Linked DNA regions of Homo sapiens. Changing the gene in region 1 together with any one later gene gives a genetic interaction. Each region holds a gene or a part of one and is shown in the gene's direction. Other genes may lie near its edges.

What was found. A genetic interaction does not mean that the proteins touch.
Region 2: changes in SNRPG (region 1) and ZNHIT6 together harm fitness less than expected from each alone (positive genetic interaction), as found in Homo sapiens cells (one large-scale study listed by BioGRID).

Annotation. Positions count from the first base shown.
Region 1 is NC_000002.12:70,280,862-70,283,740, reverse strand, and holds the end of SNRPG (small nuclear ribonucleoprotein G), read left to right. Parts: intron 1-2,056; coding exon 2,057-2,107; 3' UTR 2,108-2,379; downstream 2,380-2,879. UniProt on the Homo sapiens protein: Plays a role in pre-mRNA splicing as a core component of the spliceosomal U1, U2, U4 and U5 small nuclear ribonucleoproteins (snRNPs), the building blocks of the spliceosome.
Region 2 is NC_000001.11:85,659,934-85,663,433, reverse strand, and holds part of ZNHIT6 (box C/D snoRNA protein 1), read left to right. Parts: intron 1-1,156; coding exon of another isoform or gene 1,157-1,175; exon of another isoform or gene 1,176-1,316; intron 1,317-3,500. UniProt on the Homo sapiens protein: Required for box C/D snoRNAs accumulation involved in snoRNA processing, snoRNA transport to the nucleolus and ribosome biogenesis.

The DNA of each region.
Region 1 (2,879 bases):
ACTCATTGCTGATAATTGGCTGCCAGGTTCCAAGACACTTATCCTACCAATTGTGTTCCCTTCTATTCTGTCAGCTGCAGTAATCACATGTGAGTTCTTTTATTCATATTTACCAGGTTATTGAGCCCTCTGTGTGCCTGCTACTATTTTAGGCACTGGGGTTTTGCACCTAAGTCCCTGCCCTCATAAAATTTACATTTGTATGGAGAACACAATAAATCATAGCGTATGTGTAAATAAAACAAGCATGATACTGTGAGAAAAGAATAAGTTACAACTACTTTTACTCTAGCTGCCTATAAGCATAGCTCCACTTTGAATCTTTTTGGAATGCCTCCATTTCTAATAAACACCTCAAATTATTACATTACCTTTCTCTCCCCTACATTACCTATTCTTTCCCTCCCGTACCCCTCCATTCACCTATCCAATTCTACTTGACTGATGGGTGATCTATCGATTATGATGATCTCCAGTCTATTAGGGACTTACTGTTTTTAGTCCCCTAGCCTTCCAGTTTCGCTTATTTTTCTACCCCTCTTGAATTCATTTACCAGCTGATTCATCTATACTCTGATAAGTTTGTCTGTTGGTTTGTTTTGGTTTTGGTTTGTTGTTTTTTTTTTTTTTTTTTTTTTTTTTTTGACAAAAGACAGTTTCGCTCGTTGCCCAGGCTGGAGTGCAGTGGCGCTATCTTGGCTTACCGCAACCTCCGCCTCCCGGGTTCAAGTGATTTCTCCTGCCTCAGCCTCCTGAGTAGCTGGGATTACAGGCATGTGCCACCACACCCGGCTAATTTTTTATTTTTAGTAGAGATGGGGGTTTCTCCATGTTGGCCAGGATGGTCTCGAACTCCCAACCTCAGGTGATCCACCCGCCTTGGCCTCCCAAAGTGCTGGGATTATAGGCGTGAGCCACCACACCCCCGATAAATATTCTTATCTTCATTTATGGCTTATCTACTAGGTCAAGCACTGTTCTCCTAGGGCCTTTTTTTTATAACTTCTCTTTCTGCCTCTAGGTTCTGTCCTATTCAAACTTCGGCGTATTTATATAATATCTTGTTGCAGGGACACTTATGGTTGTCATTCCCCCAAGTGAAACTCTCACTGGCTCATTGTTAGTTTCTGATGTCCTCCAAACACTAAGATTGGCATTTGAAGCTTTCCAAGATTGAATGCCAACTATCTTTGTTTCCTGATTCTCTTCGTGAACTTTTTACTGCATTCAAATTAGATTACTTCCTTATCCTCTCATACTTTGTCTTCATCTTAGTTCTGTCTAGAATTTCCTACAATCTCCTTTTCAAAATTCTGCCCAATTTCCAAGACCCAGGTAAAATGTCATTTTCATAAAGCATGCCTTTCACAATTTCCCATCCTGGTTTCTTCCCTAAATGATCTCATACCTCCAAACTGTACCTAACATACTCTACTGTACATATTTTACTCATTAATTTTTGGATCCCATAGAGTCAGGGATGGGCATTTAAATTTGAGTCCTGCATTTTAGAAGGTGAAATTAGGGCCAGGCGTAGTAGCTCACGCCTGTAATCCCAGCACTTTGTGAGGCTGAGGCAAGCAGATTACTTGAGGTCAGGAGTTTGACACCAGCCTGGCCAACATGGTGAAACCCCGTCTCTACCAAAAATATAAAAATTAGCTGGGCGTGGTCAGGGCTCCTGTAATCCTAGCTACTTGGGAGGCTGAAGCAGGATTGCTTGAACCTGGGTGGCAGAGGCTGCAGTGAGCCGAGATTGCGCCACTACACTCTAGCCTGGGCAACAGAGTGAGACTGTCTCAAAAAAAAAGGTGAAATTAGTCATTGGAGACTTGGCATTAGAATCTCATAAAGCAAATTGTTAGCCTTAAATCCAAAAGATGTCTGTCGTATAAAGGGCTTAGAGTTGTTTGGTGTCCCTGTGGCTTGAACAAAGCTTTGCAAACCGACATGTAATATTAAAAAACCATTAATGATTTGGTGAAAATTCTTAAATCATCATAGTTATGTCTGTTACCTGAGTTGTTCTTTTCAAATTTATTTTTCTCTTTCTTAGGTAATACGAGGAAATAGTATCATCATGTTAGAAGCCTTGGAACGAGTATAAATAATGGCTGTTCAGCAGAGAAACCCATGTCCTCTCTCCATAGGGCCTGTTTTACTATGATGTAAAAATTAGGTCATGTACATTTTCATATTAGACTTTTTGTTAAATAAACTTTTGTAATAGTCAAAAATGCTTTCTCAGATGTTCTGAATATAGAATATCAGCTCTCATTCCAGTTTTTTCTAACATGAATTTTCCTGGTTGACATTGATTTCAAAGGGTTTTATGCATTAAAGTGAAAGAATCTTATTAAATGTGAAACATGGCAAGGATTCCTTCTGTCCATCATCTTTCAACACTGAACAGATAAAGAAGTTACAAACATGAGTGAGTTTCTTCTAAAACACTAATTTTCAAAACTTGTAAGAATAGTAACTTTGATCTAGCCTGACTTTCCCAAGTACATCTACATTCCAAATATAGTACAACAGAAGCAAAAGACAAGAAGTAATGATGTAGTTGTTTATTTTGAATATAATCATGAAGTGGGGAAAAATTTTAATACAAGAGTAGAAAGAGGATTCCAGAGAAAAACATTCCAGTGTATCATGGTTCTTTGTGAGTGAGTAGAGAGGGGTAGTGAGGATGCTGTCCACAATGTATTCATCTAGTTAATGAATTGTATGGCCCACAAGCTCAAACGAGAGATACATTACAGATGGTTGTATTATAAACCTAATCTTAAGAAACCTTACCAAGCAAATGCTTAAAGACTGATTTTTTTGTGATCTGATAAAAAGCCTGCAAATCGTGAATCACTTTTAAACTGTAC
Region 2 (3,500 bases), on another chromosome or scaffold:
TCTACTTTACCTGATTAGGAATCGTAGGCTCTGAAAAATTGACTTACCCAAAGAAACTAAGTTTGTACAGTTTATAAGGCTAAGATTTGGACTCAGACCTGTTTGTCAAGAGTTCAGTTCATGCTTTTTCTACTAACTAGTCTCTGTCTCTGTCATAAATCATAAATATAATTCCTGATAAGTATGTCATTTCCTTGCTAGGAGTGCCAAATTACTTTTGGAGTATAAAATCTTATTACTGATGCTAGCTTAGCAAGTTACACTTTGGAAACATTTTCACCTGTTATAGTCCTTACAAACTAACCCATGAGTAGGTATCTTTCCTACCATTATATTGATGGGCAAAACTGAGTCTCCTTGTGGAGTTATAGCTCATAAGGACCAGTGATAAGACTGGAACTCAAGCCTTGTGGATTTAAAAGTAATTGAATTTACCAGCGAAAATCAGAAAAGATTTCAAAGAAATAATATCTAGAACAAGTCAGAGCCTTGTAAGCCCCTCTTTAAAACAGGTTTTAAAATATATAGTTGGCCATTTTATTTAACCACATCCATAGTTTAAATATCATGGTTAGAATAGGATAATTTACCAAATGCAGTTCTGAACTGGTGAGCTTTCTGAATTAAGACATATGTCTGTACTACACAATTCATGATCTACTCTCCATGTCAAGCAGGTATCGTCCTCATTTATGTGGATATATAAAAATCCCAAAACAAAGTGCATCAAACCACTAACTTAACTACTGTGATTTTTAAAATATGAAAACTAAGAGAGATTGGGTGAGAAAAAGATTAACTATGGCAAAATCCTTTTCTATATGACTTGAACATTAGGAGTTGCAAAAATTGTTACACAGAAGTATTATTTGGAGAAATTTTAAATAATACCTTTTAAAGTTTAAATAAAAGAAGAATTAAAACTTTTTTGGAATAATTTAGTTGAACTTTTAATCTAGAAACCTAGATTGAGAAATAAATACAACTGTGAAAAAATATAGTTAAGTATCAAAAATTGTAGAAATTTAGAGCTGAAGGGATCTTAGTGATCACCTAATTCAATGATCTTATTTTAGTGGAAAAATACTGTGGCCTAGGGCCTGCTACTAGATTGCTAAATTTGGAGAAATTCAAACTTAGTTTTGGTATTTTTTAGCAGGTGGAAGGGGCGATGATCCATGGAGTGTCAGTGATCAGATGGGACATAAAGTGGTTTGTGATTTCGTTTCTTTAAAAACTTGTCTTTTGTGGTTATGAGGAGGTTTTTTTTTTTTTTTTAAAGCACACTAATTTGCTAATAAAGTACAGAGAAAGAAGTTCAAGAGCTTGGCCTGTTTCTTTGAAAGTTAGTGACAGAGTCAAGATTAAAAGCACACCCTTGATTATCATGACAACTTTTATTTATATATGTCACTGTAACACCTGTTTGGCCCACTGAGCCGTTCTGCCCTCATAATGCGCCCATGAGGCTGCCCAGAGCAGGGTCAGCCAGTGAACCTGTGAGGGTGAGCAAGTGAAATAACAAGAGGAAATGTCTAAGAAGGGTCCCAGAGGGCAAGAGAAAAGACAAATGTTAGTATCTTAATTCCTCCAAACCTAAGTAGTTTGTCTTATGGTAGCAGAGACATTATATTAATGGAAATACCAGAGTTTGTGAAAATTTCAAAAAGATAAAGCTGTCCCTTAGGATTCAGTAGCTTAATGGCTTGCAAAGGAGCTAAACCTAAGTGTTTTAGGCAGTGCAAAGCTGGGCTCTTAAAACTTGCTTCAAGATAGTGGAAACAGAAACATTCAAAGTACCTTTATCTTCTTGGAAGTAAATGTGACAATAAAATAATGATTTGAAGGTCATACAGAAAGTTGTAAGGCTACATTTAAAATGCAAAATGCACATAAAGGCAGTATGTTCACTGCTAATGAAATCCAGTGACTTTGTCCTGAACTAGAGTTTCTATAGGAAAGTGTTGTTATTTTTGGTAAATAAAAATATAAAACAAACACATGTGCTTAGGGCTTAAATAAATGAGTGAGCAGTTTCTGTGTTTTATCATTTAGCCCTCACAGTAACTCTCTGAAGTGATACTGTCATTATCCCCATTTTCAAGCATGGAAACTGAGGATTAAATAACTTAAGTAACTTGTCCAGGATCACAGACCAGTGAATGATGGAGCCGGAACTTTAACTCAGCGTTAAACTCCAAACCCAAACAACCAGTAAAAGTTATTGCTTCATTTAACTAAATTCCAAGTCCATAAAATATTAACCCCATATGTGTCTGATAGGCTTTCTTTATGAACAGTTTACAAAATTTACTTTTAAATTACTGATAAATATTAATGGTAGATTAAGAGTAACCACTTGTAGTAGAAAAATCTAAGAAATTCAGAATTTCAGCTAAAAGATTATTTAGTGAAATCTGAACGCTTCATTTAACAGGTTGGAAAGCTGTGGCCCAGAAGCTTACTGACACTCAATAGCGTATTGCTGATTAGAAGTTTGCAACATTTTAGGCTAAACACTAAATAAAATCCACTGATTCTAATCAAAACCACACAACATACCAGATTTTCATTGCATAAAATATTTTTAAAATAATTTATCAGTTGACAAGCCTCTTATAAATCTTTGCATCCTTAGTGCTTTTTAAGTGCCTGCTTAGCATGTAAAACAGGAACCAAGTTTTTTTAAGTATAATCATTACAGTTTCAGGATCCAAGTAAGTGTAATCATTACAGTTTCAGGATCCAAATAAGTGTAATCATTACAGTTTCAGGATCCAAATAAGTGTAATCATTACAGTTTTAGGATCCAAAGCATGTTTAACTTGTTGCATAGTAATTTTTATGTACCTCTGAACATTCCTCTGCTAGGAACATATTTTATATCAGCAATAATTTTAGGCTCTGATTCTCATGTGGCCTTTGAAGAACTCTTTTTGTTGCTTCTTGGTTTCAGCTTTGGAAATCTAGAGAAACCCAATTAAGATTTAATATTACAAAAAGAAATCAGATACCTAAAACATTAAATATGCACTGAAAATTATTTACCAAAAACTGAAACAAGTAAAAAACATTCCCTTATTTGAAAAATGCCTTTCATTAGAAGCCTTATGATTTAGCTAAAATGCACAGAAGATAAGTTATTGCCAAGTGCTTGTAGGATGCCACTTGAAAAGTTCCTGTTTGAGAGTCCAGGTCTTATTTCCTCCCAAGAAAAATTTAGTTATCACCATTTTATATTTTACTTTGTAAGTTAATCTTTTACTTGGGTATCTGATATAATCTCATTTTTCTTTTTTATATAATTGCTACTAACTTTGAAAAAAACACTGCTTATTTCAAAGAGAAATAATGTTTAAAAGATGTGAAGCATTTAATCCTTGAATGCTGGAAACACTTTTAAAGTATTGTAAGTACATCTGTATTACATTACACACAGGGAAAAGAATGTATGAATTCTATGATCTGTGGGCACTAAGGTGGCTGGTTTAGAAAAACAG